3 linked regions of the Homo sapiens genome follow. The gene in region 2 interacts genetically with the main gene of each other region. Each region holds a gene or a part of one and is shown on either strand. Other genes may lie near its edges.

Evidence for each region.
Region 1: changes in HDAC3 (region 2) and SREBF2 together harm fitness more than expected from each alone (negative genetic interaction), as found in Homo sapiens cells (one large-scale study listed by BioGRID).
Region 3: changes in HDAC3 (region 2) and ACACA together harm fitness more than expected from each alone (negative genetic interaction), as found in Homo sapiens cells (one large-scale study listed by BioGRID).

What each region holds. Positions count from the first base shown.
Region 1 is NC_000022.11:41,870,978-41,874,632, reverse strand, and holds part of SREBF2 (sterol regulatory element-binding protein 2), read right to left. Parts: coding exon 3,598-3,655; intron 836-3,597; coding exon 614-835; intron 1-613.
Region 2 is NC_000005.10:141,630,226-141,633,880, forward strand, and holds part of HDAC3 (histone deacetylase 3), read right to left. Parts: intron 1-3,655. UniProt on the Homo sapiens protein: Histone deacetylase that catalyzes the deacetylation of lysine residues on the N-terminal part of the core histones (H2A, H2B, H3 and H4), and some other non-histone substrates.
Region 3 is NC_000017.11:37,396,690-37,400,344, forward strand, and holds part of ACACA (acetyl-CoA carboxylase 1), read right to left. Parts: intron 1-3,655. UniProt on the Homo sapiens protein: Cytosolic enzyme that catalyzes the carboxylation of acetyl-CoA to malonyl-CoA, the first and rate-limiting step of de novo fatty acid biosynthesis.

The sequences.
Region 1 (3,655 bases), on a different chromosome or scaffold from region 2:
CCTAGCCTGGACAGTTATCTTAAGGCATAGATTTTTACTTAGGATGTACAGCTTTCAGATTTGTAGGCAAGGAAAATGAAATTTTCTTTCAAAATAGGGTTTAAACATAGATAGGTTTTAAAAATAAAATCTCCTACTTTCTAGAAGACACATACACTGAAACACCAGAAACATTTGGAACATCAGTTTCCTCTATGTGTTGCTGGTCAAAGACTCAACCTCTTTTTTCTTTCTTTTCCTTAAAAGGTAACCCCTAAACACAGCTAAAACTATGCCATCAGCTGACTCCAAGGTACACACAGTCCTGTATCTGGAACTACTGAGTGGCAGGCATCTTTCTCTGCCTCTGACAGTGGAGTCCCCATCACTGCAGAGCATAGCCAAAGGAGTCAAAGGTCTCAGCGGGTCACTGCCTTATCAACCCTCACCAGTCCCTTATGTTTTTTAATATTTTATAATCTTGACATGACACCAAGATGCTTTAATAAAAAAGCACCTCTAACTCGGTCTTGTATTCACTTACCTTGAGCCTGGGACTTCTCTAGGCTCCTGAGGCAAAAACAGGTAGAGGGGAGATGGTGGAACATAAAACACAATTTTGCTTGGCACCCACCTTGGCGTCTGTCCCCATGACCAGGTCTTTCAATTCGATGATTTTGTCATTGATGGAGGAGCGATATCGTTTCTCAATGATATTATGGGTTGTCCGCCTTTCTCCTTCTTTGGGGGGCTCAAGCTGCTTGACTCCCCCAGGTACCTGCTTAATGGGCACTTTCTCTTGCCCCATCATTACAGGCATTGTGGTCAGAATGGTCCCACTGCTGCCCACCAGGGTCTAGAATAGGGACAGGTACACAGCAGAATGATCCCTTTGTTAGTCTGCATAAAGCAACCTCAACACAGACCTGCCCGCTTTGGCCAAGTGCTGCCAGACCTGGCAGTACTTCATGAGGTCTGAGACTCTTCCTGGGTTAATCAAATCAGGCCCCAAGAAGTCTCAGGAGCCACGGAACCTTGGTTACTACCTCCCTTCAAGAATCACTGCTGATAAACTACACCACAAGAGGATTAACATGGCTAAATATGTTTTAAGTTTTGATCTACGTATGCCAGAAACAAGTCATATGATTTCTGCTTTGCTGTCAAACTGTTAACCACTTCTAAAGTTGTACACGGTGAACCACGAGTTGGCACCAGAGAAAACTTTCTCCTAGTGTATGACACATTTTTTCCTCTCAAATGACAATTAAGCAAATTACTGCATTTCTTTATACAATTTTGCCATCAAAAAGCTCAAGGGCAGAAGTGACACTCTCAATAAGAGCCATTTGATTAAGTAAATAGGCCAACCATGGAGGTCTCCCCTTTTTATTCTTCATCTCTGTTTTCTCCTCTTATTTTTTCTAACTTTATTTTATTTTATTTTATTTTTTTTGAGACGGAGTTTCGCTCTTGTTGCCCAGGCTGGAATGCAATGGTGTGATCTCGGCTCACCACAAACTCTGCCTCCCAGCTTCAAGTGATTCTGCTGCCTCAGCCTCCCGAGTAGCTTGGATTACAGGCATGCGCCACCATGCCTGGCTAATTTTGTATTTTTAGTAGAGACGGGGTTTCTCCATGTTGGTCAGGCTGGTCTCAAACTGCTGACCTCAGGTGATCCACCCGCCTTGGCCTCCCAAAGTGCTGGGATTACAGGCGTGAGCCACCACGTCCTGTTTTTTTGTTTTTGTTTTTTTTTTTGAGACAAAGTCTCACTCTGTTGCCCAAAAGCTGGAGTGCAGTGGCGTGATCACAGCTTACTACAACCTGCACCCCCCTGGTTCAAGTGATTCTCCTGCCTCAGCCTCCTGAGTAGCTGGGAATACAGGCACCCACCACCACACCTGGCTCATTTTTGTATTTTTAGTAGAGATGGGATTTCATCATGTTGGCCAGGCTGATCTCAAACTACTGACCTCAGGTGATCTGCCCACCTCAGCCTCCCAAAATGCTGGGAATACAGGCGTGAGCCACTGGGCCTGGACCAATTTTAGTTTAATTTCTTAAATAATGGCCTCAATATCTAATCAGCCAATAAATAAATAAAAAGGTGCCCAATTTCATTAGTTGCCAATAAGTACGTCATGCACAATAAAAACCACAAATCTTAAGTTTATAGCTTGATGAATTTTACATATGTACACAATGTATATAACCACCCAGACCAAGATATAGCCCATTTCTACCAGCTCAGAAAGTCCCCGCATGCCCCTCCCCTCCTTGTCACCACCGCTCTGAATTCCAGCACCATAGCTTCATTTTGCCTCTTTTTAAACTTCATATAAATGGACTCATTAGCATGAACTCCTTTGGCTTGACACACTATTTCTTTTTTTTTTTTTTTGAGACGGAGATTTGCTCTGTCGCCCGGGCTGGAGTGCAGTGGCGCAATCTTGGCTCACTGCAAGCTCCACCTCCCAGGTTCACGACATTCTCCTACCTCGGCCTCCCGAGTAGCTAGGACTACAGGTGCCCGCCACCATGCCCGGCTAATTTTTTGTATTTTTAGCAGAGACGGGGTTTCACCATGGTAGCCAGGATGGTCTCGATCTCCTGACCTCATGATCTACCCACCTCGGCCTCCCAAAGTGCTGGGATTACAGGTGTGAGCCACTGCGCCCGGTGGCTTGACACACTATTTCTGAGGGACAGCCCCATGTTGTTTCATGCATCAGTAGCTTTTTTTTTTTTTTTTGAGAGTCAGTCTCGTTCTGTCATCCAGGCTGGAGTGCAGTGGTGCGATCTCGGCTCACTGCAGCTTCCACCTCTCAGGTTCAAGCAATTCTCCTGCCTCAGCCTCCTGAGTAGCTGGGATTACAGGCATGCACCATGCACCACCATACCCAGCTAATTTTTGTATTTTTAGTAGAAATGGGGTTTCACCGTGTTGGCCAGGCTGGTCTCAAACTCCTGACCTCAGGTGATCCACCCCTCTTGGCCTCCCAAAGTGCTGAGATTACAGGCGTGAGCCACCGTGCCTGTCAGCAGTTCTGTTTTTTAATTGCTAGGCATAATTTCATTGTATGAATATATCACAATGTGCTTATTTTCCTGTGGATGGACATTTGAGTTGCTTCCAGTTCTTGGATTTTATGAATAAAGCTAGTGCTTCTAAATTTTAATCACCATTTACTCTATCAGATTCTCATGCTATAGGATGCTGAAAGTGGCTAAGAACCTACAACTGAAGGATGGGGTACCTTCCATGTTCTTCACCTTGGAGCCCTTCCCTGCCTGGTGGCCCTAGGGTCCTTCAGAAGTCATCAGCAGGATCTAAGAGGTGAATGGTCTTGTGTGGAGCTATTAGCCAAGAATAGAGGGTCCTTCTGCTATTCTTTTCTACCTCCTTGTAGACTCCAGTACTCCCACATCGAACACACATTGCTAATACTTTTTCGAGCGAAAAACAACTAAGAGGGGTGACATTTACAATTTGACTGATTTGTGCTATAGACCCTCCCATACCTACTCAGCATATAGAGATTTAACATCTCTGAAGACTAACACCTCCAGGAATAAAGGGGGAGGGAGGAGGGTGGGGGAGAAGGCAGCTCTTACTGGTACTTGAAGGGCAGCCGTCTGGATAGGGGTGGTGAGGGCGGTGAGGGCCGGGTTC
Region 2 (3,655 bases):
AACCTTCTCTCCCTCTCCTACACACGTGGGCTATCTGCAAATTTATTCAACAAATATTTTGGACCAAACCATGTACCAAGCCCTGTGCAAGGCACTGGATGGGAAGTAAAGAAGCACTTAACTGTCAGGGAGTTTGTATCCTAGCTGCGGAAAGAAGCAAGCAGCTTCCAGGTACTCAAGTACAATGTAAAAAGGAAATCAGTTGAAAGAAAACATGAGCTCTGTTTTTCTTAGTCTTCTCAGTGTAACAAATTTTAGCATAATGTTCAATAATATTTTTCAGTCACATATTTTAAAGAAAGAACTGTATACCTACATATGTGAAACAGTGATGAGATAACCCACGAAAAGCCTGTAGCACAGTATACAGTATCCGCTCAGCCTTTAATAAATGTCAGCTATAATTATTACCATTGTTATTCTTTATAAAAAGTAAAGGCTTGAAGCCAGACACAAAAGCCTACTTACTGTATGACTCCATTTATGTAACATTCTGGAAAAGGTAAAATACAAGGACAGACATCTTATCAGTAGTTGGCTGGATCTAGGTTGCAGAGAAGTTATTAACTACAAAAGGGTGAGTGACCTTTGTTGGGTAGTGGAAATTTCCTGTACCTTGATACCTTTTTTTTTTTTTTTTTTGTAGAGACAGGGTCTCACTATGTTGCCCAAGCTGGTCTCAAACTCCTGGGCCTAAGTGATCCTCCCGCCTTGGCCTCCCAAATTGTTGGGACTACAGGTGTGAGCCATCGGCGCTGGCCCTATACCTTGATATATTCTATCAAACCTCTCAGAACTCTTACACCTAAAAAAGGTTAATTTTACTGTATGCAAGTTATACCTATATAAACCTGACTTTTTAAAAAGGAAAGGCTTAGGCAATCCCTAGTTTTAGGTCTCAAAAAAAAAAAATAGTGCAGCTGATACATTTGACCATGTGAAAAACAGAACTGTAGGGGTTTTTTGTTTGTTTGTTTTTTGAGATGGGGTCTTGCTCTGTCGCCCAGGCTGGGGTGCAATGGTGCGATCTCGGCTCACTGCAGCCTCCGCCTCCCGGGTTCAAGCAAGAATTGTAGGGTTTTATAGTTTCTCAAAAGGCTTGGAAAGAATTAGTGATTAATACCAGAAAACTAAGCAAATGAAAAAATAATGCAATTGTCAGCTCCAGGAAAAACAAAAAGCTTTAGAAGAAAATAGATTAAATCACACTACACTATTTGGCTTGATAGTAAATGAATCTTTCAGAGTTATAATAATGTAAACACAGAATACTGATTTATTTTTAAATTACTATGAAGCTGAAAGGGGAAAGGAAGCCAATGTGATGGTGTAAGAAGACTAAATGCTCATATCCCATACTAAAAGCTTAACAGATAATGCCTAAAATTGACAGACGAAGAAATAGCAATGAGAGACAATACAGGAGGGGAGTATGATTACAAGCACCGATTCTGGAGCTAGACTACCTAGGTTCTTTAACACCTACTAATGATAGTGAGGTTGTACAAACTGTTTAACCTTTCTGTGCTTAAGTGTCCTCATCGGTAAAAGGAAACAATAATAGACCCTGCTTCATAGGGGTTGTTGAGATTAAATAAGCTAATGGCTGTAAAGCACTTAGAACAGTACCTAGTATATAACAGGTATTACCTAAGGATTACAGATTAGTAATAACAGTCAATTAATATTATTATTTAGAAATCCAAAGGTAAATACCAGAAGACATAGGGGAAAGGAGCTGAAAGTGGCTGTCACTGGGCAGAGGGATTTATGGGTGAAAAGGAGAGGTCTGGAATTTTTTTTTTTTTTTTTTTTTAAGACAGAGTCTCACTCTGTTGCCCAGGCTGGAGTGCAGTGGTGCAATCTCAGGTCACTGCAACCTCCAACTCCCGGGTTCAAGCAATTCTCCTGCCTCAGCCTCCTGGAGTAGCTGGGACTACAGGCACGTGCCACCACACATGACTAATTTTTGTATTTTTAGTAGAGATGGGGTTTCACCATGTTGGCCAGGCTGGTCTTGAACTCCTGACCTTAGGTGGTCCACCCGCCTCGGCCTCCGAAAGTGCTGGGATTACAGGCGTGAGCCACTGCGCCCGGCTTGGGACTACTTTTTTATTTTTTTCATTTAAAGGCCTATAGTACAATTTGGCTACTTATGTTAGAATACTTTGAAACCAATCAGAAATTCATTAAACAGAAGAAAAATTCCTGATTCTCATCGGAAATACAGATAAGCACAACTGTAACTTGTTTGACAGGAAGACTGATGCAGCATAAATAGCCCAGAGATAGTATTCTAATTAGCATTCCCTAATCGCACAAAGAGCATCTACGGGACCCCAGTGTGGCGTAAGGGCTGACCCTGTATTCACAGAGCTAGAAAGTGAGCTCAGAAATAACAGCAGGAATACTAACAAAAAAACAAGAAACCTCCCCAAACAGCATGTGACTGAACACCAAATGAGCAGTGCAGTGTGTGCAAGACAGAGCTCTATGGGCTGGTGTGGTCAAGAAAGGTTTCATGGAGATGGTGTGAAGGCTGAGAAGGCCTTGAAGAGGTTGAATAGAGAACTAAGGGCATTCCAGGAAGGCATCCTGTGCAGCTGAGGTGTAGGGATAAAGTTGGAAAGGTGCCAATGCCAGCCTAATGAGTTGGCCTCTATCCTACAGCCCTGGCTGCTTCTGTCATTAAGATCTTTCAGGAAAACAGATTAGTGGTTTAAAAACCCGGGATCTGGATCATGCCCCCTCCAATGACCAGTTATGTGACTACGGCTAAGTTACCTAGATATTCCCAAACCTCAATTTACTTATATATAACATCAGAAAAAGGTCTATTATAATACATCTAAGGATTGGTATGAGAATTAAGTGGATTTACCAGCAACCCTTGGCATAATACCTAGCAGAGTAAGCACTCAGTAAATGGTAGCTATCATAAGAAATTCTACAGGATCAACAACCTGGTTTCTTCAAGAAATAAATTCAAGGGGGTGACAGAAAAGCTACAAATTAAAAGTCTTAAGAGACATATCAACCAAATGCACTGTATAGACCTTGTTTAGATCTGGATTTAAATTAGCTACAAAATAATTATGAGACAACTGCAGAAATTTGAATATTGATCCCATATTTGATGACATTAAGGAATCACTGTTAACTTTTTAGGTTTGATAATGATACTATGTTTTTTTAAAAGAGTATCATTTAGAGATACATAATAAAATATTTATGGATAAAAGGATATAACATCTAGGATCTGCTTTAAAACAATCTAACATGAGGGAGTATAGATGAAGTAAGAGTGGCCACTTGCTCAGCTGGGTGCGATGGCTCACGTCTGTAATCCCAGCACTTTTGGAGGCTGAGGCTGGTGGATCACCTGAGGTCAGGAGTTCAAAACCAGCCTGACCAACATAGTGAAACCCCATCTCTACTAAACATACAAAAATTAGCCAGGCATGGTGGCAGGCGCCTGTAATCCCAGCTACTCGGGAGTCTGAGGCATGAGAATCGCTTGAACCCAGGAGGCAGAGGTTGCAGTGAGCCAAGACTGCACCACTGCACTCCAGCCTGGGCTACAGAGTGAGACTCTGTCTCAAAAAAAAAAAAAAAAAAAAAAAGAGTGGCCATTTGCTCATAAGCGTTGAAGCTA
Region 3 (3,655 bases), on a different chromosome or scaffold from region 2:
GCTGCATGTACTTATGACTAAAGGCCAGAAGAAATCTTTTTATTTTTTGTTTGCCCTGGACAGGTTGAGAGTCCTATGATCCCTTCCTCCCCATCCCACTGATACTCCACTCCCACTTTCAAAAAGTATTCCATTTTCTGAGTTGACACAATGGCCCTCAGGTTGCCTTGAATTACTTATCTTCCCTATTATTAGTAATAGTAGTAGTAGTATTATACTTTAAATTCTAGGGTACATGTGCACAATGTCCAGGTTTATTACATATGTATACATGTGCCATGTTGGTTTGCTGCACCCATTAACTCGTCATTTACATTAGGTATTTCTCCTAATGCTATCCCTCCCCCATCCCCCCACCCCACGACAGGCGCTGATGTGTGATGTTCCCAGCCCTGTGTCCAAGTGTTCTCATTGTTCAATTTCCACCTATGAGTGAGAACATGCGATGTTTGGTTTTCTGTCCTTGCGATATTTGCTCAGAATGATGGTTTCCAGCTTCATCCATGTCCCTACAAAGGACATGAACTCATCCTTTCTTATGGCTGCATAGTATTCCATAGTGTATATGTGCCACATTTTCTTAATCCAGTCAATTACTTATCTTCTTATATGTACTTACTGGTTCTTCTGCTTGAAGCCCAGTATCTGTGTTAATTTGTATATCTCTATATTACTTTGTATCAACAAAGCACCATGTTCATAGCAGATACTAAAAATATTTGTTGATAATGTCACACCACCAAATGGATAAGCTAAGGGTAGCATAGCTGACTTTCTAGAAGAGAATGAAGTAAGCTTTATTTTTATATCAAAGTTGCTATCAGTTACCAGGGAGATGCAAACCAGTAAAGGGTCATACTATAATTGTTGCTAACACTTGAATTCATCTCTTTAGACTTATTTTCCCTCATATTTCATCATCTGTTCCTTTTTCTCTTCCTCTTCATTATTACAACACTTTTCTTTTGTCTTTCCTTATTCAATGACCTGATTTGTCAGTGATCAAATTCTAAAAATTTCCCTCAATCTGAACTTCTAGTGAACTTCGATCCATGTTTATACTGAAATTTCAGATCCAAAAAGTCTTTCCTTTACCCCACCCTCCTTCACTTGGTGCAGTGTAGCAACAGGTGCACCTTGGACCGTAATTGAGGAACTTTCACTGGACTCTTGTGAATTTGCACCATCCAGTGGCTGAAATTGCTAACTGCATCCTCTGAAAAAAGGCAGTGGGCACAAATAAAAAAATGTAAAATGGGGGCTGGGCGCGGTGACTCACTCCTGTAATCCCAGCACTTTGGGAGGCCGAGGCAGGTGGATCACAAGGTCAAGAGATTGAGACCATCCTGGCTAACACTGTGAAACCCCGTCTTTACTAAAAATACAAAAAATTAGCTGGGCGTGGTGGCGCGCGCCTGTACTCCCAGCTACTCAGGAGCCTGAGGCAGGAGAATCACTTGAACCAGGTAGGCGGAGGTTGTAGTGAGCCGAGATCGCACCACTGCACTCCAGCCTGGGTGACAGAGCGAGACTCTGTCTCAAAAAAAAAAAAAAAACAGTTTGGCCTCCTCTTCTAGCTGTTGTGGTATCACTTTTTTTTTTTTTTTTTTTTTTGAGACGAAGTTTCGCTCTTGTTGCCCAGGCTGGAACGCAACGGTGCAATCTCAGCTCACTGCAATCTCCGCCTCCTGGGTTCAAGTGATTCTCCTGCCTCAGCCTCCCGAGTAGCTGGGATTACAGACATGCGCCACCATGCCCTGCTAATTTTGTATTTTTAGTTGAGATGTGGTTTCTCCATATTGGTCAGGCTGTCTCGAACTCCTGACCTCAGGTGATCCGCCCACCTTGGCCTCCAAAAGTGCTGGGATTATGGGATTACAGGCGTGAGCCACCATGCCCGGGCTTTTTTTTTGAGACAGAGTCTGGCACTGTTGCCCAGGCTGGAGTGCAGTGACACGATCTCAGCTCACCGCAACCTCAGTCTCCTGAGTTCAAGCGATTCTCCTGCCTTAGCCTCCCGGGTAGCTGGGATTACAGGCGCCTGCCACCATGCCCAGCTAGTTTTTGTATTTTTAGTAGAGACAGGGTTTCACCATGTTGGCTAGGCTAGTCTCGAACTACTGACTTCAAGTGACCCACCCACATCAGCCTCTCAAAGTGCTGGGATTACAGGCGTGAGCTACTGCATCGGGCTTTCATCATATCCTTATGAAACGCTTATGAATTAGACATTATTATTTTCATTTTACATAGGAGGAGAAAGGAGATGCAGGAAGATAATAACTTCCCTAAATTCTTTTTTTTTTTTAGATGGAGTTTCACTCTTGTTGCCCAGGCTGGAGTGCAATGGTGGGATCTCGGCTCACGGCAACCTCTGCCTCCTGGGTTCAAGCGATTCTCCTGCCTCAGCCTCCCAAGTAGTTGGGATTATAAGCATGCACCACCATGCCCGGCTAATTTTTTATATTTTTAGTAGAGATGGGGTTTCACCATGTTGGCTAGGCTGGTCTCGAACTCCTGATCTCAAGTGATCCACCCGCCTCAGCCTCCCAAAGTGCTGGGATTATAGGCATGAGCCACCGCACCAGGCCCTAAATTCTTAAAGGTGATAAGGAGTGGAGACAGAATTCAAATTCAGGAAAGTTTCAAAGTCCATGCTTGCTTTTTCAATTATATTAAACAATGCCAAGTTCCTTGCATATTCCAAGCATTTATTGGGCACCTGTTGGTTGCACAAGAGTATAGACTGCCTGTCACCAAATGATGCAAAATAATTTAGGAGCCTGTTTTGACAGTCACAAGATGGAGGTCCTGTACATTAGGCAGAAAAGTATGCAGCTAGGCAGCCTAGTAGGCATTTTAGAATTGTCTGATAAACCGAGCCACTTAGCAACAATATATTTCTAGTTCACCTAATTTTTTGGGTTCTGCCCAAAGGCTGGTGACTCATGAGACAGATATTCCGCACTCTGTGTACATGAGAAAGAAGTCAGTAAGGTGAGGAAGAAGCAGAAGAGATGGGTAACGAAGGCCTGGATTCACGAAAACTGTTTAATGGCCATGGTATTATGAAAATCCTGATGCCAGCCAACTCTTGAGTGTTAAATAATGAGAGTCAGTTTATTAGTTATATTTGGACAGATCTGGTTTTTTGCTTTATTTTTATAAATAATGTTCTAAGAAATTTATTTTATTTAATTTACTTATGGCATATTTAAACATTTTTTGGCAAATAAAAATTGTGTATATTCATGATGTACAACATGTGTTGATAGATGTACTCATTGTGGAATGGCTAAATCAAGCTAATTAACAAATCCATTACCTCAAATATATACCCATTACCGCAAATACTTATTTTTTTGTGTGGTAAGAACAACTAAAATCTACTCTCTTAGCAATTTTCAAGCATATATATATTTTTGTTTGTTTGTTTGTTTTTGTTTTTGAGACAGGGTCTTGCTCTGTTGCCCAGGCTGGAGTGCAGTGATGCAATCTTGGCTCACTGCAACCTCTGCCTCCCGGGTTCAAGTGATTCTCATGCCTCAGCCTCCTGAGTAGTTGGGATTACAGGCATGCACCACCACGCCTGGCTAATTTTTGTATTTTTAGTAGAGATGGGGTTTCACCATGTGGGCCAGGCTGGTCTCAAACC